Regions from separate parts of the Homo sapiens genome. Here regions 1, 3 and 4 are each linked to region 2. Evidence: fine-mapped expression QTL. A gene starts in region 2. Each other region holds a variant in brackets. All regions are shown on one strand. Distances are between the middles of the regions. Region 1 overlaps FNBP1 (formin binding protein 1). Region 2 holds the start of USP20 (ubiquitin specific peptidase 20). Region 3 overlaps USP20 (ubiquitin specific peptidase 20). Region 4 overlaps FNBP1 (formin binding protein 1).

What was found. PIP is the estimated chance that this variant, and not a neighbour inherited with it, causes the effect.
Region 1: its variant is fine-mapped to the expression of USP20 in whole blood (TOPMed, PIP above 0.99).
Region 3: its variant is fine-mapped to the expression of USP20 in lung (TOPMed, PIP above 0.99).
Region 4: its variant is fine-mapped to the expression of USP20 in thyroid (GTEx, PIP 0.97).

The regions. Positions count from the first base shown.
Region 1 is chr9:129,883,035-129,888,178 of GRCh38, forward strand. It overlaps FNBP1 (formin binding protein 1), which reads right to left. Exons shown (of 17, transcript NM_015033.3): 17 at 4,153-5,144. Among named protein-coding and RNA genes, the nearest start is that of MIR6855, 16 kb to the left of the region's middle. RefSeq lists enhancers at 1,376-1,670, 1,662-1,971, 1,770-2,451, 2,502-2,551 and a silencer at 2,742-2,991. The variant T/C (reference allele first, on the strand shown) is at 2,772.
Region 2 is chr9:129,833,256-129,838,399 of GRCh38, forward strand. USP20 (ubiquitin specific peptidase 20) reads left to right here and starts at 2,203. Exons shown (of 26, transcript NM_001110303.4): 1 at 2,203-2,244. C9orf78 (chromosome 9 open reading frame 78) reads right to left here and starts at 2,020. Exons shown (of 9, transcript NM_016520.3): 1 at 1,884-2,020; 2 at 1,452-1,511; 3 at 403-454; 4 at 192-262. The coding sequence starts at 1,966. RefSeq lists silencers at 1,952-2,301, 2,332-2,481 and an enhancer at 2,453-2,953.
Region 3 is chr9:129,863,945-129,869,088 of GRCh38, forward strand. USP20 (ubiquitin specific peptidase 20) reads left to right here. Exons shown (of 26, transcript NM_001110303.4): 10 at 1,359-1,437; 11 at 4,061-4,505; 12 at 4,918-5,058. Among named protein-coding and RNA genes, the nearest start is that of MIR6855, 3.1 kb to the right of the region's middle. RefSeq lists a silencer at 986-1,280. The variant C/G (reference allele first, on the strand shown) is at 2,038.
Region 4 is chr9:129,898,207-129,903,350 of GRCh38, forward strand. FNBP1 (formin binding protein 1) reads right to left here. Exons shown (of 17, transcript NM_015033.3): 13 at 4,663-4,795; 14 at 2,220-2,341; 15 at 1,759-1,895. Among named protein-coding and RNA genes, the nearest start is that of MIR6855, 31 kb to the left of the region's middle. RefSeq lists an enhancer at 2,457-2,576. The variant G/A (reference allele first, on the strand shown) is at 2,237.

The DNA of each region.
Region 1 (5,144 bases), 50 kb after region 2:
CGGCCTCTCAAAGTGCTGGGATTACAGGTGTGAGCCACCGGGCCCAGCCTCCCTTGCTAGTTTTAGGTGGAGCCGAACTCAAAATGATGTCACCCTGGCTCCCCTAGGCTTCTGCTTCCCTGCCGCTATCAGATACGAGCGTACAGAAACATTTCAGCGTATGCAAGGATAACACGGTGACAAGGAACCAAGATGACACATTGCCAGTTCCATGGAAAGCCTGGGGCCCCTCCGGAGTCGGCCACCTTGCCTGACCCCAGAGGTGGCTCTTTGCATGTGGTTCCCTCATCCCGCCTTTTTTTTTTTTTTTTTTCCTGAAAAAAGCTTCATTTTATTATTATTTTTTGAGACAGAGTCTCACTCTGTTGCCCAGGCTGGAGTGCAGTGGTATAATCTCAACTCACTGCAACCTCTGCCTCCTGGGGTTCAAGCAATTCTCCTGCCTCAGCCTCTGGAGTAGCTGGGTCTACAGGCATGTGCCACGACGCCTGGCTAATTTTATTTTTTATTTTATTTATTTTTAGTAGAGACGGGGTTTCACGGTGTTAGCTAGGATGGTCTCGATCTCATGACCTTGTGATCTGCCTGCCTCAGCCTCCCAAAGTGCTGGGATTACAGGCATGAGCCACCACACCCGGCCAAAACATCATTTTAAAATTGAGCTTTCTGACTGTGCTCCTGCCCTTAACACCTTCCCAGCAACTTTCTGCTCCTTGATGAGGAAGGCACACTTGATCCTGTCGGGAACACGTTCACACAGAAGCACCAGATGCACTGCTGATGGGTTTTTTGTTTGTAGACAGGGTCTCACTGTGTTGCCCAGGCTGGCCTCGAACTCCTAGGCTCAAGTGATCCTTCTGCCTCAGCCTCCCAAAGTGCTGGGATTACAGGCGTGAGCCACCACGCCTGGCCGCTTGCTGACATGTTTTTGCTTTGGGGCAGTCTCATAGGAGCTTTAGGTCTCACAGCACAAACCCCTCGGAGTCAGCCCAGGCCCATGCCATGTGCAGACTTTGGCAGTTTCCCAATCTTGGTATAAAGGTAAACGATTCTCTTCCCAGGGGTTCGGGCCGGCCTAGTGCTGTTAGAGGCTGTATTCTAGGAAAGCCTATGACGGTTTGGGAAACTGGGCCATGCTGAGTGCCTGTAGACAGCGTTCCCGGAAGAGGAAAAAGCAACCTTTGTCTTTATGTGGGAATCTCTAAGCAATATTTTTGGCTTTGTTTACATTTGAAGGTTAGATATGTGTCAATCCACGTGATTGACATTGAACATGGAAAATGAGAATGAAAGTTTTGTCTGGAAGATTTATTTAGGAGGTTTGGAGACAGTTCTTGCACTACAGAAAGGTGGGCTGGAAATAGGTACCAATTTGCCTTAAAACGTTTCTTTTAAAATACCTGGCTTTTAAGGAGTTCAGACTGAGATGCCAAGATCTGAAGTCTGTGCTTGATTACTGAGCAGGGACAGGAAGTGCTCGGTGACTGGGGAGGCGGGGCTCAGGCCTCGCTCCCCACGGTGCCCCACGGTGGCTCCTCCTCCGCGCTAAGCCAGGGCGTGGCTTCAGCAGCGCTTCTTAGAGGAGCCGGAAAGGCGCCCCTGCACCGTGGGGGAGGCTGCAGGAGACCTGCCGCCTGCCTGTGGTTCTGTCGGCCATGGCGCTGCTCACAAACCTGCATCCGAATACATTTGCAAGGCGCAGCCACCCAAAAAGTGTAGTTCCTACCTTTGTTCTGTTTTAAATTCAGTGCAAACATAAATTATCCTGAGGGTCTTAATGCTACCTAATTTTGAGCCCCAGAGAGCCTTGGGGGAAGTGAGCAGAGGTTTCGGAATCACAGCCCCCTCTGGCTCGTCCCTTCTGCAACTTCACCTACACAGAGAGACACCTGCTACCTGGACGGAGCAAGGGTGAGCTGGGCGCAGAAGAAACACACGCCTTTGGGGAAAGCTAGGAGCAGTAGACAGCCTAGGCAATGTATGTTCTGGAAGGGTGTCCCAGGGTTTCTCAGGGTGCAGCCTCCATTCCTTCCTTCGATTTGACCCGGGACCAGCCTAGATGAGGGGGCCTGTGGAGAGCTGGAACTGGAAACAGGTTCTCAAGGGCAGGGCTCGGCACAGCGTGGCAGCCAGGGGCTGTGCGGACTGAAGGGATGCGGCCCTGTCCTAGGCTGAGACGTCCGTCCAGCAGGTGCCGCAGGGAGGAAGGGAGCCTTCCCCATCCCCGACGGGGACAGTGGGTCCGTGTTTCCTCCCACAGCTTTCGGCCCCTTAGCTCTGAGGACAAGGATAGGGTCCTTCCTCTGCTTCTTCTGTACCTTTTGTGGTCCGGAGATGTCCCCGGCGGAGGTCACTATACCATCTGGAGGTCTAACGGGAGGCAGGAGTGCTCAAGTCAAGGCCGAATGGGCACTCAGTGGGACCCTGGAGAAGCAGCTGACACACCAAGGGGCTGCCACGTGCCTGCTGGCAGCCTTCACACGCTCATCCCGGGTCTCAGAGGGCGCTGGCAACACAGATCCCTGCCTCCCCTATCGGGAAAGCGTTTTAGGACCAGGGAAAAGGAGGCCTCCCCCAGGCGAGTGCGCAGAGCCAGGGAACCCGTCTGGATGGTGGCTCTTTCCCACCATCCTTCTCTGGCAGCAGCAGTTCAAAGTGGAGCTTCCAGGCTGTCCCATACATTTCACGATTTCTGAGTCTTTCGCTTCAATTTAAAAAAAGCTGGGGGCACGACCGAATCCTGCCTCTGTCCACCGCCATCTCGTTCCTCA[T/C]CGCAGGGGGCCCTTCTTGCTCCCTCCACTGCTGCGCTCTGCCGTCTGCTCCCGCCAGGGGTCCCCACCACCTCTGCGGACGGAGGAGCCGCCTCCCAGGCCCGGGCGTGCCCAGGGCGGGTGGAGGGCGTGGGGCGGGCCGGTATTTCCTGACCCGCTGGAGGAGCCGGCCCCACAGGCTTGTGGCCTCCCCGGAGCCGGTGAGTCAGGAACTTCCTACTTCAAGAGGCTTCCCCAGTGCAGCAGAAAACAAACTAGTCGCCCCCAATGCTCCCGACCTCTGTGATGTCCACACCCGCGGAAATGGGGGCCCCAAACCAGCAGGCTCTGTTCTAGGCTTCTCAGCGCTGGTGCGGCTCTTGGAGAAGGCTCGGCAGGGGCGGGTGGGGCATGGGGGGGTTCACAGGTGGAGACAGCCCGTCTCCGCCCCACAGACGGCTGGGCGCAGTCCCGAAATATTCTTCCCAAGTGGACTTTTTTGCTGACAACCTAGAGGAGAGGGTTTCGGGTAGGATAACAGTAGATCCACCTTGTTCCCTTGTGCCACACTGTGTCACACTGGGAACCAGCAATTCTCAATGGTGCCTTGAAGCCAACTGCACGCACTTGTGGTTAGAGGTTACCAATGGCCCCATATTGGTGCCCTCACCTCCTGCCCTCCGCAAGTGAGGATGCTTGGCATCAGCAGAGCTGCCAGGTCTGCACTTGGTGTAGCTGCGAATATGTCATTTCCTGGACAACTGTTTTCCTAAAACAGTGCTAAAAAAAAAAAAAAAAAAACCCTTGGGACACAGAGAAGTGTGGGCACAAACCAATCCTATCTTCCCCCAAAAGGCCAGGGTGAAATTTTCAAAGCTGGCTGTGGAAACGGGGCCTCCCACTGCACATGTCCAGCCAGTGCCAGGCACAAGGCTGCTGCCCTTTCGAGTTGTCCACGTGAAACAGCTCCGCACTGCCTGCAGCTTCACAGAAACTAGTGATTCCAGCCACGCCACCAGGAGTACCGGCTTGAGCACTGGTGATACCAGATAAATAATGAAACTCAGGTGTGCCCTCATTTCACCACCTCCTCCTGCCCCAGCCCCAAGCAATGAGGTCCCCAAAGAGCTAGAGCAGCAACCAGTTGAATGTGCATGCAAAAAATACTCCTGGCCATAAGCAGCCTCTCGCAATCCTCGCACTACATCAGCCCGAATTCCACGTCACCACGGTCTGAGAGCCTCCCCCTCCACCGTGGATGGGGGTGGAACTGAGAGCTATCTAGGTCTCCAGCTCCTCCCAGGGGCCAGCTCCCCAGCCCAGGGGGCTTCCAATGACACCAGGCTGCTTCCACAACTAGGGTCATATCTTCATGCAACAAAACAGTCCCGTGACACGGAGCCACAAGTTATATTTTATTTTAACACGAGATTAACATATAGTTACAAGGTCAATACAAGCCTCCAGTGGAAGCTCTTTATTTGGTTTAATTCCATCTCCAGAGACAAACAGGCAACTCTAGGACCTTTACAGTGGCGATCGGCCTCACACAGCAAAATGCCTCCAAAGTTTAGAATTAGTGCAACACACATACGAACATTTTAAAGGTGCTCAACATCAGGTTAAAATAGAATTCTGGACCTTTTTAAAAAGTTTTTGGATGATATAAGCACAGGAGGCAGAGCCAATAAGAAACATGAAACCAATATTTCTGGAAAAACACTTAGCATGAACGTCACTTTTTGACGTCGTGTAAACTTTCTTCTGCAATGACGGATGTTACCAAAAGGCATCGAGACCTTTGCGCTGCGCTGGTTAGACAAGCCGCAGGCTTATCTCCACGGTGAGCAGGATAAAAACCCCCAAGGAACAGCCCATGACAACCTTCTGTGCCTTTTTATACTTTCCCATCCTACAAAGGAAAAACTGGGTAAAGGACAAGTTCCTCCCTTTCACTGCGTTTCTAAGAACTTTTCAGGGCAGGTTCTTTTAAAATTAGTCATCTTACAACACAACAGTATTCTAGCACGGTGGCGAAGTGACAGGCGGCAGATACGGGGGAGGAAGGAGACGTTCACGGGAAATTCCACATTCTACTCTATGTGAACTGCTCCAGAAAAATACAGACATGATTTCACAGTAGGATTCCCAGAGTAAATGATGATACATAGGACAACTGACCTCCTCTAAGAAGCCCGGCTGGGGCAGCAGTGAGCTTTTCATGGAGCCACGCAGACTGGCCCGGAAGCAACACCCAGGTTCAACATTTAAGAGCACTCGCTATAACATTCTTTTTGGACGCAGGTGGTGGAAAAGTTTAAAAAACAGGCGGAGGAGTGACGGGGGGATACAAGCATATCCTATACTGGGGGTGACGGTCATTCAAAGAGCAAA
Region 2 (5,144 bases):
ACTTGGCTCTAAGTTAACTTTTAAAGACTTTTTGCTTTCTTTGTTTTTAAATAACACACCCTTTGCAAAGCACAAAACCTGCTTCAAGATGTCCTACTAATGCTGCTGCTACAGGCCCCAGCTCTCTGAGGGAACCTAGACCCAGGCAGCCGCTAAAGGTGAATTTGCATCTAAGCTTGTCCTGAACTTACTTATCTTTGCCCCTTTCCTTCAGTTTCTTCATATCCACCATACCACCTGTCTTCATCTGAAAGGGATCATCCTGCAGAAAGCAAACACAGTTAAGAGGAAGCATCTAAATACATGGTAGTGGAATTTTTTTTTTTGTGAAGCACGCTCACTCACTGAAGAGCACTGCAGGGAGGGCTGCCATAACTACTCAGGGAAGACCCCATAACTTACCACTAGAGTGGTCTCCTCTTGTACCTTCTCTCCCACCAGCAAGGCCACAGCACTGAGCAAAACCAAAAAAAAAAGAGAGGGGGAGAGAGAGAAATGGCATAATTCAGAGATAAGGAGGAACCCTCTCAGGTATGCGGATTGCAACATTAGTGCAAGGGTGGGATTTGAGGGGTGGGTAGGCAAGCCGGCTGGAAAAGCCTATAAGCATAAGACAGGGCTCAACGAGCACCGCAGATGCTGGAAGAAGGGTGCGCTGGTGGTGAAGTGGTACACTTTGCCACTTTCCTGTAAAGCCATTTGGCATTATCTTGGCCTGGAAATCTCATTTCTAAGATATTCTCATCATGGAAAGTGCAGCTAAAGATAAATTTAAGAGAATATCCACTGCAGCCTTATTTGATAGTAAAAATTTACAAAATCACCTACATGTCCCAAAATAGGGGATTTGTTAACAAATTACAATACACACATCTGGTGGAATATTATGCAGCCATTAAGGCTTTCTGAAAAATATTCCACAATATGGGTGAATGCCCACAATGTCATAATGAGTTGAAAAGAACAGGGAATAAAAGTACATAGAAAGTTGTTCACAATCTGAGAGAGAGAGACGAAAAAAAACAGATTGGAAAGAGTATTCAATATTAATACCAGTGCATTCTTGGGTGGCTCTGCAAGGAAAAAAAATGTTAACACTGATCATTTCCGGATGGGAGAATTATGGGTGCTTTTTATCGTCTTGACTATACTTTTCTAAATTATACAAACTCTTAACGATCGATATGCATTTCACAATTAATTGGTTTTAATAAAAAACGCGAGTTAGTGATCTGTTTCTGTATCTCTGGAGCACACCCCGAGACGACACAGCTCAGGGCATGTCCTGGTTAAACATTTGCAAAGAACGCTGTTCTCCAAGTTGGGCAGTGGAAGGTGTACAGTGTGTCAAGAGAAAAATCTACGTCTGAGGAGATATTTGTGACAGCGACCCGGACGCGGATGTGTCTGTCGTCCCCGCCGCCTCCTCCTCCTCCCCGCGTGGTACCCACCTCACCCCGTTGGGCCTCTTCCTCAAGTTCTGTACCTCTCTGGTCTCTTCCAGTTTTAATCTTTAAAAAGAAGAAGAAGCAGCAATGCATAAGCTGAGTGATTCCCCGCGGAATCCAAAGCTAACAGAGCCAATAAGGCACCTTCGAGGGCATCCCAGCCCAGCTACTGAGCCACCAGCACAGTGGTCCAGAGGACGACCTTGTGCCTAGACCCACCGGGAGTCAGAGCCACTGCGCATCCCGGAGGCATCTCTCTCAACCGTTCGAGCTTGGGGCGGTGGCCTCACCCCTTGAGCCTCAATTTCTGCGTCCGCAGAAGGAACCACCACCCGAGCTCACAGTTAACAATGTCAGCGAAGCGCCGAGCCGGTGGTGAGTCCCCCAAACAAGTCTATCTTTACCAAGCCTATGGGAGCCCCGCCCCAAACGCACCGAACCTCCTCTGAGTCCTGCTCATCTTCCTCTGACTCCGAGTCGCCCCGGCGGCGACGGAAAATCTTCCGGACGACCGGCATGGTGACAACGGCCGAGTTGTACAGCCGCCGCGCCTCTGCGCAGCGGCCCAGGCTGCTTCCGGCGCGCGGCAGAGCGGTCAGAGCGCCTGCCCCGTCTGGCCCCGCCCCCGGCACGCACAGTCCGCGTGGCCACGCCCCCTCTCCTGGCGTCAGCCTCTTCCGATTGGACGGCAGAGGGAAGGAGGTGGGGCGTCGCCAGACGGCCCCACAACCCTGCGCGTCGCCTCAGAGGGGGCGCGCTTGACTGACAGGCGGCGGCGGCGCAGTTGCGAGTGCAGGTGAGTTCCGGGCCGCCACCGGCTGCTTCTGTGGGCCGGGCCTCTGAGCATTGGCGACCCCAGCCCGGCTCCGGGCTGACAGGGCCTGGCTTCGCCAGGTACGCCAGACGCAGCGGCCCGGTGAGCGGAGCCCGGGACCCCCCCGGCCGCCGCCGCCCCTCTCCCCTCCTCCGGTCGGCGCCCAGGGGGGCCTCTGGGCCCCAGCACCACCCCACTCTGAGCTCCCTGGGGGCTCGTGGCTTCTCCAGAACCGGGGCCGCCCCCCTCTCATTTCTGCCGGGGCCTGACCTAGCGTTGAAAGCATCCGCGTGGCGTCTCGCGTCTCGGGCGCTGACTTTTCTTTCCTCGGGCTCTGAGCCCTGACGTGCGTTTTTTTCTTTCGGAACAAAAGATGACCACTTCTCTGCGGTGCTGACTTAGAGTCCCAGCGCCGACTGCCTCACAAATAATGGCCCCCAGCTTCTCCGCGAGGAGAGGCGCGTCTGATGTTTTGAAGCCACGCAAGAGGGTTTGAGCCGGGGGACTCCTCCTCGGTGCTTGCCGGCCACCCCCCTGGACCTTCACGGGTCTGGTTTTCCTCCTTCGGCAGGTCTGTCGCTCTACCCTCTGCCCCTTCCACCCCGAAGATGCTGTGAGGATAAAGTTTATTTGAAAAACTGGTATCAGCAAACGCTTAGGAAATACCTAAATGCATAAATAATGGCTTCTAGGACTTTTAAGAACCCCTTAAGTAACAGTAGTTTTCCTTTTCTCAGTGTCATCCCTTACTTTGAGAACTACCTCTTATTAAGCAGTTACTATGTGGCAGGCCCTGGGCAAAGCATCATCTCATTGAATTCTCCCAGCAATCCTTTGAGGTAGATTGTTTTTCGTTTTACAAATGAGAATGCGGAGTCTCCGAGGGGCAGTGCACGCCTCAAGTTACCCAGCTAGGAGGTGGAACAGGAATTGGTTGCAGGTCAGTCTCTGCCGCACGGTTTGCACAGGGCCTGGCACGGTAGGAGTGCAGTAGATGTTTGCTGCTGCTGCAGCTGCTGTTACATCTCATTGGCTAGGGGGAGGGGCCGATGGGGGCTGTCTGGGGTTCCCCTTTCTGGAAGACCATTCCGAAGCAGGGCAGCATTTCTAGAATGCCTTACGTTTTCTCTGGAACAGTCTCCACTGAGATTGTTCTTCTCTTCCTTGGGCTGGAAAAAATAGTAGACTCGGGACTTCTTGCACCAGCGTTTTATCTTTGGTCAAAAGCCATATATTAAAGTCTCAAAGTCTTGCCCTCTGCAGACTGGTTCAGCCAAACCCAGATGCACGTGCACTCACTGGATACGGAGTCCCTGTCAGATGATGGAGAGGCTCCTTGGGAATTGCTGCAGGAGTCCAGGGGGTCAACGTCTGCAGCTCTCACGCTCTCAGAGGTGGCTCTGAATCTGCCCATCAAGCAGCCCATCCACCAGGGGGTACTGGACACTACTAAGGAAAGGGCAAGAAGGCCAGGGGCATTTCTGGACCCTCCTCCTCAGCTGAAGTCCCAGGGTACAGATGAGCTGCTCCCACCCTTGCTCCATGAGGCCAGAGGACCCAGTGATAACCACCACCTGTGCTGTGGCAGATCTAATTGAGTGCTCTTTAGCAAAAGGAATGCTGAAAAAGTGGCAGCTATGAATCTGGCAGTAAGTGGCTTTGCCAAGAGACTGCAGCCCAAGTCTCACTGGGCCCTTTTAAGCGTAGGATGAGACTGTCTCTCAAAAGGACCCTCCGAGAAATACAGGTTCTATGCAGTTCAAAGATGAATCCAAGGTCTTAGTCTTGTTTGGGAGTTCAGTTGTTTTAAGAAAATGTACAGATTCAACCTAGGTTTTGGTTGGTTTCCTAGCTCCTTTCTGGAGCCAGATGAAATGTTGGCTTGTTTCAGGGTTCAGGGAGCATTCATGTCCGATTGGATTTGGGATCCAGCAACGTGATACAGTTCACAGCCCAGCTATAGTCGGCATCCAATAAATGTATTTATTGGATCAATGTATTCAACAGATTCTTAGCATTTACTATATGAGCAGGCACTGTTCTAAGTGCTTGAAATAAGTCAGCAAAAGAGACAAAAGATCCCTGATTAGTTGAGTGTATGTTCTCACAGTAAAGTATGTAAAGTGTGTTAGAAGATGGTAAGTGCTGTGGAAAAGAAACAAATAGAGCAAAACAAGGGAATCACCTCCGGGAGGGTGGCAAGGTTGAGTTGCAAATTAAAATTAGCGCATTCTGGTTTGGGATTTGGTTGGAAACATGACAGATAAAGCAGTGGATTGAATGATAGGCCTTGGGTTCCAGTCACTGCCTGGTGGTTTTAGGGGTCTGTAAGCTTGAACTTTATTTTACAAAAGCTTTTATTTAGAGTGTACACCCTGAACTCAAGTCCTGATTGTGGGGTATTTAACAGTGATGAAAGAGCCAGGCTGTTCTTAGCCTTTTACCTTAGCAAGACAAACAGTATCCAACTGGTTCTCATTAGCATGAAGGAGGAAACTTGGAGAAGCCATGCACGTTGACAACAATTTTTTTTTTTTTTTTTGAGACGGAGTCTCACTCAGTTGCCTAGGCTGGAGTGCAGTGGTGCGATCTTGGCTCACTCCAACCTCCGCCTCCCAGGTTCAAGTGATTCTCCTGCCTCAGACTCCTGAGTAGCTGGGATTACAGGCGCCCACCACCACACCTGGCTAATTTATGTATTTTTAGTAGAGACGGGGTTTCACCATGTTGGCCAGGCTGGTCTCAAATTCCTAACCTTGAGTGATCCGCCCGCCTCAGCCTCCCAAAGTGCTGGGATTACAGGTGTGAGCCACTGTGCCCGGCTAACAACAAATATTTAAAGGCAGGAAAGTGGCAGTGCTCTTTGGCTCCAGTGAGCAGTC
Region 3 (5,144 bases), 31 kb after region 2:
AAAATACAAAAATTAGCTGGGTGTGGTGGCGTGTGCCTGTAGTCCCAGCTACTCGGGAGGCTGAGGCAGGAGAATCACTTGAACCTGGGAGGCGGAGGTGGCAGTGAGCCGAGATCGCACCACTGCACTCCAGCCTGTTGACAAAGCGAGACTCTGTCTCAAAAAAAAAAAAACAAAAACAAAACAAACCAGCATGGGAGAAATATGTATTAAATGTAGAAGCAGATTAAAAACCAGCGTGGGGCCAGATGCAGTCACTGACACCTGTAAATCCAGCACTTTGGGAGGCCGAGGCAGGAGAATCATTTGAGCCTAGGAGTTTGAGACCGGCCTGGACAACACAGCAAGACCCCGCCTCTACAAAAACTACAAAATTAGCTGAGTGTGGTGTGAGCACTTGTGGTCCCAGCTACTCAGGAGGCTGAGGTGGGAGGATCGCTTGAGTCCAGGAAGTTGAGGCAGGCTGCAGTGAGCTTGATCATGCCATTGCACTTCAGCCTGGGCGACAGAGTGAGACCCTGTCTCAAAAAAAAAAAAAAAAAAAAAAAAGTCTGTGTGCAGTGGCTCACTCCTGTAATCCCAGTACTTTGGGAGGCCGAGGCGGGTGGATCGCAAGGTCAGGAGTTCGAGACCAGCCTGGCCAATGTGGTGAAACCCCGTCTCTACTAAAAATACAAAAATTAGCTGGGCATGGTGGCGCGCACCTGTATTCCCAGCACTTTGGGAGGCTGAGACAGGAGAATCACTTGAACTCGGGAGGCGGAGGTTGCAGCAAGCCAAGATCATGCCACTGCACTCTAGCCTGGGAAACAGAGCAAGACTCTGTCCCAAAAAAAAAAAAAAAAAAACCCAGCATGGTACAATATAATTCCGCTTGTGTAAGAAGCCAAGTTTAAATGTGTATCTGTATGTATTTTTGTATATGCATCTGTAGTTTCACAGAACCAGAAATCTAATGGTAAGTATCTGGTGCCATTGGTGGTGGTGTTTTTCTCTTGTACTTTTCTGAAATTTTAGATTTGTCAATAATGAACATGTCTTACTTTTGAAATGAGAAAACCACAGTAAGTGTTTCAGAATGAAAACAAATCATGTTTAGGCGAGTTTGTTGTGCACCAGAAGGAAATGATGCTATTTTATTTGAGCTCTTTGCTTAATTGAGGCAGCTATGACTTGACATTTTCTTCTTGTCTGTAGAGATGTGTGAGCCTCTTGGGGCTCCTGGCTGAGTAGGCCCCTCCCCAAATGTCAGGAAACGCCACACTCTGATCCAGCCTGACGGGCTGGCTGCCTGCTTCTCTCGGGAATGAGCAGCTCAAGGCAGGCTACCTGGACTAATGGGTTTGGGCTTCCTACAGGCCAAGCTACGTGGTCCCCACCAGTCTGTCTCATGGGATCAAGTTGGTCAACCCAATGTTCCGAGGCTATGCCCAGCAGGTAAGCCATCTGAGCTGCCCAGGGGACACCCAAGGCCATGACCCACCAGGCCTGACTTTGACGCCAAAACCAGAGTGGAAAATCGCAATGGCAGCTGAGCACTGGTTGGCAGGTCTCACGGACCAGGCTCTCACTCCTAAGCCCTTCACACGTGTGAGGACAGTGGAGCCTCCCAGCAACCTGCTGACATTTAACCCCACTTCACAGATGGACAGACTGAGGTTCAGGGGCCGAGCCACTTGCACAGGCCACACAGCTAGTAAATGGTGGAGGGGAATTCTTTTTTTTGTGGGGGAGGGTGGGTACAGGGTCTCACTCTGTCACCCAGGCTGGAGTGCAGTGGTGCAGTCATGGCTTACTGCACCCTCGACCTCCCGGGCTCAAGCAGTCGTCCCACCTCAGGCTCCGAAAGTGCTGTGATTATAGGCATGAGCCACTGCACCCGGCGGAGGGGAGATTTGAACCCAGGCAACCTTGCTGCAGGGCCTCCGCGTTGCACCCAAAATGACACAGGGTTTCATTTCCCCAAACCACAGGCAAAATTTCACTTTTATTAAAGTAAAAAGTTTGATTAAAAATTTTTTTTAAATCTAGAGAACC[C/G]TTTTGAAACCAATCACATTTTTCTATTTTATAAAATAATGAGACCAAGACAGAGTGCAGCCACGCGTACACCTCAGCCCCGGGCTGATGGCTCCTGCCCTCCAGCCTCCTGCCCCAGATGGCCCACAGCCTGGGCTTTCATGCCAGGCCTGCAGGCAGAGCTGGACCTGGCTGGGTCACCTCTTGTGCTGCCTGAAATGAGCACCATGGACGGAGTGGCAGTCATGTGGGGACAACTTCCGCCCTCTACCCCCTGCCTGCTGTCCCGTCCCAGGATGAAGTCTGCTGGGCCTTTGGCTCCTGCTTGAGAAGCTCAGCACTGCCTGGACACCTCTCTTTTTGGGGAGTGATAACATGCACAATGACTAAAATTCACTGAGCACCATTTAAGTGGTCACAACTTAGTCCTCATAGAAGTCTCACAAAGTGGGCACTGTTGTCACCCACACGTTACAGGTAAAGAGCTGAGGCTCAGAGAGGTTCTACCCCTCACCCAGGTCACACAGCACATCCTGGCAGAGATGGCATTCAGGCCTACCTGAGCCCATCCCTCAGCACAGCACCACCCTGACTGTGTGCAAGGCGCCCTGCCGGCTTTCAGCTCTGGGTCAGGATGCCGTTACGGAGGGCCATGCGCTGCGGCAGGACTCCATCTGGGCTCCGGCAGAAGCATCCCTTTCTGTGGTTTTAGGATATCGTGTGGGGACACTTCTGAGGCTGAACTGTAGACGCAGCTGCGGGCGCCTCTTAAGGGCCAAAAGACTCTTTTGTGCTTCTGCATGGATTGAGATTTTGGCAAGGAACACATAGTACTTTTGTTGAAAGGAAGAACCAGAAAGAGAAGTAGATGGCAGATTGAAAGCCTCTTCTTGAAAGGGCCTTTGATCGTGCCTGCCACAGGACACGTGTCCCCTCCCTGATGCAATGTAACCTCGTGGTTCATTCCTCTGATCTTGGAGCCTGACACTTTGCCTTGGGGAGTCCCTCCTGAGCCCTCCCTTCCCTGCACATGAGTGGAGAGAGCCGGGATCCTCTTCCCAGATGTGTGACATGAGGCTGGCTCTGGCTGCTACGTGACCCCTGCCTCCTGGGGATCAGAGCCTGGGCTGAGGGCTGCTTCTAACAACCAGGTCAGGGACTGCTGGGGCTGATTTGGGCTCGGAACCCAAGTCCTTCTCCAATGCCCAGCACCACCCGAGCACCCGCTAGCTGCTGGGGTCTGCTGCCACCACCACGTTCTGACCTCCCAGTGCACCCCCTGTGTGAGCACACAGATCTCAGTGGGGCTCACTGGGCGCCTCTGCCCGAGCCCCTGCTGCCTTGGCTTCCTGCTGTGCTGGTGGCCCAGTCACAGAGTGGTCAGGATAAAATGGTCATTGCTGGGATTTGAGACCCAGGCAGCCTGCAGGGGCAGCTTAGACTGAGTCATGACCAGGTCTGTGGGAAGGTGAGAGCAGGCAGTGAGGGTATGTGGGGGCTGGCACAGGGACTGAGGGAGCAGGGGGAGCCAGAGGAAGGGTAGAGCATGCAGGCAGTCTGGCCTGTGGGTAGCGTGGCTTGGGGCAGGACTCGGGTGAGTCCTCTTTTGGCATCACACTCCCTCATCCTTCCGCCACCCCCCTGCCCACCTCCACTGGTCTCATCTGTAGGGAGAAAGGTGGCTCGGGCTTAATGTGGTACTGCCTCTCTGTCCCTCCCGTGCTGAGCTTGCAGCAGAGGCAGGAGATTCAGAGCCGGAGCCGGGGAGTTGCATGGACCCAGGTGCATACCTGGCTCTGACACTTTCTAGCTGTGTGTCCTGGTAGGTGTCCTTTAGCCTCTCCAGTCCTCACTGTTATCCTCAGAAGAATGGGGTTAGGACAGACTGCCATGGGAGGCCGCTGTGGGGGTGAGCAACTCTTCTGCAGGGGGCGCCCATGAGGTCCTCCTAGATGGAGGCTGGCGCTCTCATCAGCCACAGGGCGCTGGAGACTGGTTCCTCCTGCCTCCAGGGGAGCCCTGTTGATGCAGCCCCTGGTTCTAGGACACCCAAGAGTTCCTTCGCTGCCTGATGGACCAGCTGCACGAGGAGCTCAAGGAGCCGGTGGTGGCCACGGTGGCGCTGACGGAGGCTCGGGACTCAGATTCGAGTGACACGGATGAGAAACGGGAGGGTGACCGGAGCCCATCAGAAGATGAGTTCTTGTCCTGTGACTCGAGCAGTGACCGGGGTGAGGGTGACGGGCAGGGGCGTGGCGGGGGCAGCTCGCAGGCCGAGACGGAGCTGCTGATCCCAGATGAGGCGGGCCGAGCCATCTCTGAGAAGGAGCGGATGAAGGACCGCAAGTTCTCCTGGGGCCAGCAGCGTACAAACTCGGAGCAAGTGGACGAGGACGCTGATGTGGACACTGCCATGGCTGCCCTTGACGACCAGCCCGCGGAGGCCCAGCCCCCGTCACCACGGTCCTCCAGCCCCTGCCGGACGCCAGGTATCAGCTGGCCGGGGACTGCGGGAGGAACCTCAGCCTATGGCCCAGTACCTACCGGGTGCTGAGCGCCGACCTGCAGTAGCCCCCGGGGGACGGGTTCTTCACTAGACCCGAATGACAGTGGGGAAGTCAGCCTCCGGGGGGGCTCAGTGATGTGCCCAGGGTCCCCTAGCTCATAATGCTGGAGCCCAATTCAGAGCCCTCTCCCAGAGCCCTGAGCCTTCCAGCCGGACATGGATTGGACAGGTCTGCTCCGGCCTGTGTGCTGGGGCCAGGAGTGGGCACATGACAGAGGAGACACATTAGGGTCAGGCTTTCGTCCCTTTAGGAGGGGCTGGCAGGTCATCTTCCTGCCCACTCGTGGAGCTGGCCTGGCTGCCCTGGCCCAGCATGGTACCCTCTCTGCCCCCAGAGCCGGACAATGATGCTCACCTACGCAGCTCCTCTCGCCCCTGCAGCCCCGTCCACCACCACGAGGGCCATGCCAAGCTGTCTAGCAGCCCCCCTCGTGCAAGCCCCGTGAGGATGGCACCGTCGTACGTGCTCAAGAAAGGTTCGGGGGGCACGGGAGGGTGGGTCAGCTTGAGGCTGGGAGTACAGATTACGCCCGTAGCTGCCTTTCTCATGGCCCCCTGTGGC
Region 4 (5,144 bases), 65 kb after region 2:
CTCTGACTGCATCGACACCCTGCTAGGGGACCTCCCATAGCTCCTCAATGTTTGCCACATAAAACCCAGATGTTTCCCTACCTCGCCCCCATTGGCACTTCCCACTCTTTAGTGCCACATTTCACTATTAGGACTTAAGACATCTAAGCTCCAGCCACACCACACCCATTTCTGGCCACACCCCCCATGCCATGGCAAGTTCTCCAAACTTCCTTAAGGAAGCGACCTCATTCTCCCCTGTCCTCCCCGTTCCTCTGTATCCCTCTTCTGGCAAACACTGCAAACTGCCTGCTTTTTTTTTTTGAGAGGGAGTCTTGCTCTGTTGCCAGGCTGGAGTAAAGTGGCACGACCTCGGCTCACTGCCACCTCCGACTCCTGGTTTAAGTGAGTCTCCTGCTTCAGCCTCCCAAGTAGCTGGAATTACAGGCATGCGCTACCACGCTTAGCTGATTTTTGTATTTTTAGTAGAGATGGGGTTTCACCATGTTGGCCAGGATGGTCTCGATCTCCTGACCTCACGATCCGCCTGCCTCGGCCTCCCAAAGTGCTGGGATTACAGGCGTGAGCCACTGCACCCAGCCGCTGCTTGCTCCTTAAGTGTGTCTGCCTGATTTCCCTCTGGGCAGGTGCCATATCATACGACCTGCATCCCCCCACTTCATGGGCCTTTACAAGACAGGAGCGCTATAGATACTAGATATTAAATGAATGGATGAAATGATCATCCTCCCTATCGTCTGCTGCAGTGAAGCAAGCTCTCTGGAAGCTGTTAAGTTATACGAACCAAAAGTCAAAATATACAACCAAATAATAATCATACCATGAGTAGGATAAAAGCATAGTAGAGAAGGATCTGGAAGGCTGCTGCTGCAGCTTTTTTTTTTTTTTTGAGACAGAGTCTCGTTCTGTCACCCAGGCTGGAGTACAGTGGCGCTATCTCAGCTCACTGCAACCTCCGCCTCCCGGGTTCAAGTGATTCTCGTGCCTCAGCCTCCCGAGCAGCTGGGATTACAGGCGCCTGCCAGCATGCCCAGCCAGTTTTTGTATTTTTAGTAGAGATGGGATTTCACCATGTTGGCGAGGCTGGTCTTGAACTCCTGGCCTCAAGTGACCTGCCCGCCTCAGCCTCCCAAAGTTCTAGGATTACAGGTGTGAGCCACCATGCCCGGCCAGATCTGGAAGGCTTCTAAAGAAAGTTCTGGTCACAGAAAGAGAAGAGTGTGGCTAGGCACAGTGGCTCACACCTGTGATCACAGCACTTTGGGAGGCTGAGGCAGGAGTACTGCTTGAATCCAGGAGTTCAACACCAGCCTGGGCAACATAGTGAGACCCTGTCTCTACTGAAAAGTACAAAAAGTACAAAAGTACAAAAATGAGCCGGACATGGTGGTGCTTGCCTGTAGTCCCAGCTACTCAGGAGGCTGAGGTTGGAGGATCACTTGAGCCCAGGAGGTCAAGGCTGCAGTGAGCCATGATTGCACCACTGCACTCTAACTTGGGCAAGAGAGCGAGACCCTGTATGAAAAAAAGGAAGGAAGGAAGGAAGGGAAGGAAGGGAAGGAAGGGAAGGGAGGGAAGGGAAGGGAAGGAAGGAAGGGGAAGGGGAAGGGGAAGGGGAAGGGAAGGTAGGAAGGAAGGAAGGAAGGACAAAGGAATAAAAATGATCAGAAGGAAGGAAGGAAGGAAAAGTGAAAGAAGAGTAACTCAGATATTATGGTTTATAAAAGGCAGGGGAATCCAGCAGACATGAAATGTCACCTTCAAATGTGTAGAGAGCTTTGCACGTCCCTATGGCAGGGAGGGGCTCCTCATCATCAAACTCGTCGTCAAAATCCGTGGCCAGCACCTTCATCTCACTCTCCTGACTCTGCTCCTCTGTGTAACTGCCATCTGGGCTGCTCAAGAAAGGAAAACACAAAGCAACTAAAGCGACTGACCCCAGGGAGGACTCAGATTGAGTCCCTGCGACTGGAGAGCACTTGCAACCCCGCCCCTCAGCGAGTGCTGTAACTGAGGCCATGGTAAATCATCGCACGCTCAGATCACCCATCCCATGTGGAATTATAAATCTGCATCATGGAAAAAGTGACAGGTCAATCGCAACAGACATTTTGGCATTGAACAAGTGCCTTATGGTCATTCCAGATTCCAAAATTTAGAAATAAATACAAAGCCAACAGGCTCCCTTGCCAGAGGCAGGCGCTGTGCAGATACTGTACCTCTCACGGTCCTGGGC[G/A]CAGTTGTTGACTGTGGGTGGGTTCTGGCTGTCGTACAGTCCGCTCTGCCGGCGCGCCTGCTCGCTGCGTGCTGGGAGCCGGCCTTCAACCTCAGCCAGCCAGGCCTGGAGACAAAAGCAATGAGAGACTCCAACCTAAGGCCATCTGAGGGTCAGCCCAGAGTGTCCTAAGGTCCCAAAGGCCATCTGAGGGCCAGCCCGGAGCATCCTAAGGTCCCAAACTCAGGGGCTACTCTTGGCCATTTAACCCAATGTGAGGAAGTCCACGTGGGGGCAGAATGGCCACGTTTTCTGCCTTCGACTGTTCAAATGTACTGAAGGACGGTTGCTTCCATTTCACCCGAAGTTGGAGACATAGAAACAAACTCATATTTATGTGGTTGCCCACGATGGGGCAGAAAGCACACTGGACTATGCTATCCCCTTGGGCTTTTAAGCAGCAGTGCAGTCTTGGATAAGTCACTTCTAGTTCCTTCTTGACCATGAGGTCGCCCTGTGATACCTGAAGGTACAGCCATGCTTAAAGCAGTGACTCAGTTTGAAAGCCACACTTCCTATTTTTTAGGAGTGTAACTTTTTTTTTTGATAGAAATGAAACTTGTACTTAAAAATTAAAGTAGATAAAATGACCTTCAGCATTTGAAACAGTATAAACAAGTCAAAGGAATAAAAATGACGAGAAGGCCGGGCGCGGTGGCCACACCTGTAATCCCAGCACTTTGGGAGGCCGAGGTGGGTGAATCACTTCAGGTTGGGAGTTTCAGACCAGCCTGGCCAACATGGTGAAACGCTGTCTCTACTAAGAGTACAAAAATTAGCTGGGGGTGGTGGTGAGCGCCTGTAATCCCAGCACTTTGGGAGAGGTGGGCAGATCACCTGAGGTCAGGAGTTCGAGACCAGCCTGGCCAACATGGTGAAACTCCATCTCCATTAAAAATACAAAAATTAGCTGGGCATGGTGGCACATGCCTGTAGTCCCAGCTACTCGGGAGGCTGAGGCACGAGAATCACTGGAACTCAGGAGGTGGAGGTTACAGTGAGTCGAGACTGCACCACTGCACTCCAGCTTGGGTGACAGAGCGAGACTCTGTCTCAAAAAAAAGAATAATAATAAGAAAAGGACCGTTCTAAGTTCTAAATGCTCAAATGAACATTAATGATGGATTCTGAAAAGAATGGAAAAAGCTGGCCAGGTGTGGTGGCTCACGCCTGTAATCCCAGCACTTTGGGAAGCCAAGGTGGGTGGAGCATCTGAGGTCAGGAGTTCGAGACCAGCCTGGCCAACATGGCAAAACCCTGTCTCTACCAAAAATACAAAAAGTAGCCGGGTGTGGTGGTACACACCTGTAGTCCCAGCTACTCAGGAGGCTGAGGCAGGAGAATCACTTGAACCTGGGAAGTGGAGGTCACACTGAGGTGAGATCACGCTACTACACTCCAGCCTGGGCAACAGGGCGAGACTTCATCTCAAAAAAAAGAATGAAAAAAGCCATAGTTGACCCTTCATTGCTGGAAACAATCTATTCTGACTGGTAGAATCGGTTGCTAATGTATTTTTCCATGCTCTGTAGTCTTTAAACGTGGTAGGGAGAGTGGGTTCAGGAGGCTTTTGTTGACAGCTTTTGAGTGCTCCTCTCCCTCCCTCAAGCTTTGATTATTTATGTTTCCTGCTTGTTTCTCCTTTGTGTTTGCTGCTGGTTCTCACACACACCCTTTCCATAATGGGCCTGCTGAGAGAACAATTGTATATTTCAGGGGATTTTTTTCATTGCTTCTTTGATTCACTGGGATAACGGATCGCTCTATACTCCCAATTTTATTACCATGAGATGAAGCAGAATAACTTAAAGTACAAAAAATACTGGCCAGGCACAGTGGCTCACAGTGGCTCACAGCTGTAATCCCAGCACTCTGGGAGGCCAAGGTGGGAGGATGGCTTAAGGCCAGGAGTTCAAGACCAGTCTGTGCAACAGAGCAAGACCTCAACTCTAAAACAAATAAAAAATTGAAAAATAAAAGTTAGCCAGGTATGGTGGCATGTGCCTGTAATCCCAGCTCCTCAAAGGCTGAGCCAAGGAGATCAAGGCTGCAGTGAGCTACAAGCATGCCACTGTACTCCAGCCTGGGCAACAAAGCAAAATCCTGTCTCTAAAATTAAAAAACAACCCCGCCAACCCCGCACCGTATACAGATACAACATTAAACATTGTCAGGTTTTACAGCCACGATTAAGATAGGCTATGATGAGTAGGAGAATGTTCAACGGCGAAGAGTGTATTTTTCCTTTGACCATAACTCCTGAAACAGCCTGCCATTCCCACTGTGTACCTCCCAGTGAGAGGATCGTCAGGGCCCCACACCATTCTACACCGAGGAACACCTGTTCTTCGTTTCCAACAAAGCTTTCCACAACAGAAGTTTCATACCTCAAATTTCTGGGTCTCTACTCGCAGTTTCTCTATATTTTGGCTGACTTCTGCTAATTTGTGATCCAAACTGGCTGGGTCTCCCATCTGAGGATTCTTTAGGTAGACATCTTTCATTTTTGTTATGGCATCTCTGAAAGAAAGAACGAGTAGAATGCTGTAAAGGTTACTCCATTTTTTTTTTAGACAGTTTCACTCTTGTCACCCAGGCTGGAGTGCAATGGTGCGATCTCGGCTCACTGCAACGATCTTGGCTCACTGCAACCTTCACCTCCAGGGTTCAAGCAATTCTGCTGCCTCAGCCTCCAGAATAGCTGGGATTACAGGTGCATGCCACCACACCCACCTAATTTTTGTATTTTTAGTAGAGATGGGGTTTTGCCACGTTGGCCAGGCTGGTCTTGAACTCCTGACCTTAGGTGATCTGCCTGCCTCAGCCTCCTAAAGTGCTGGGATTATAGGCGTGAGCTACCGCACCACCC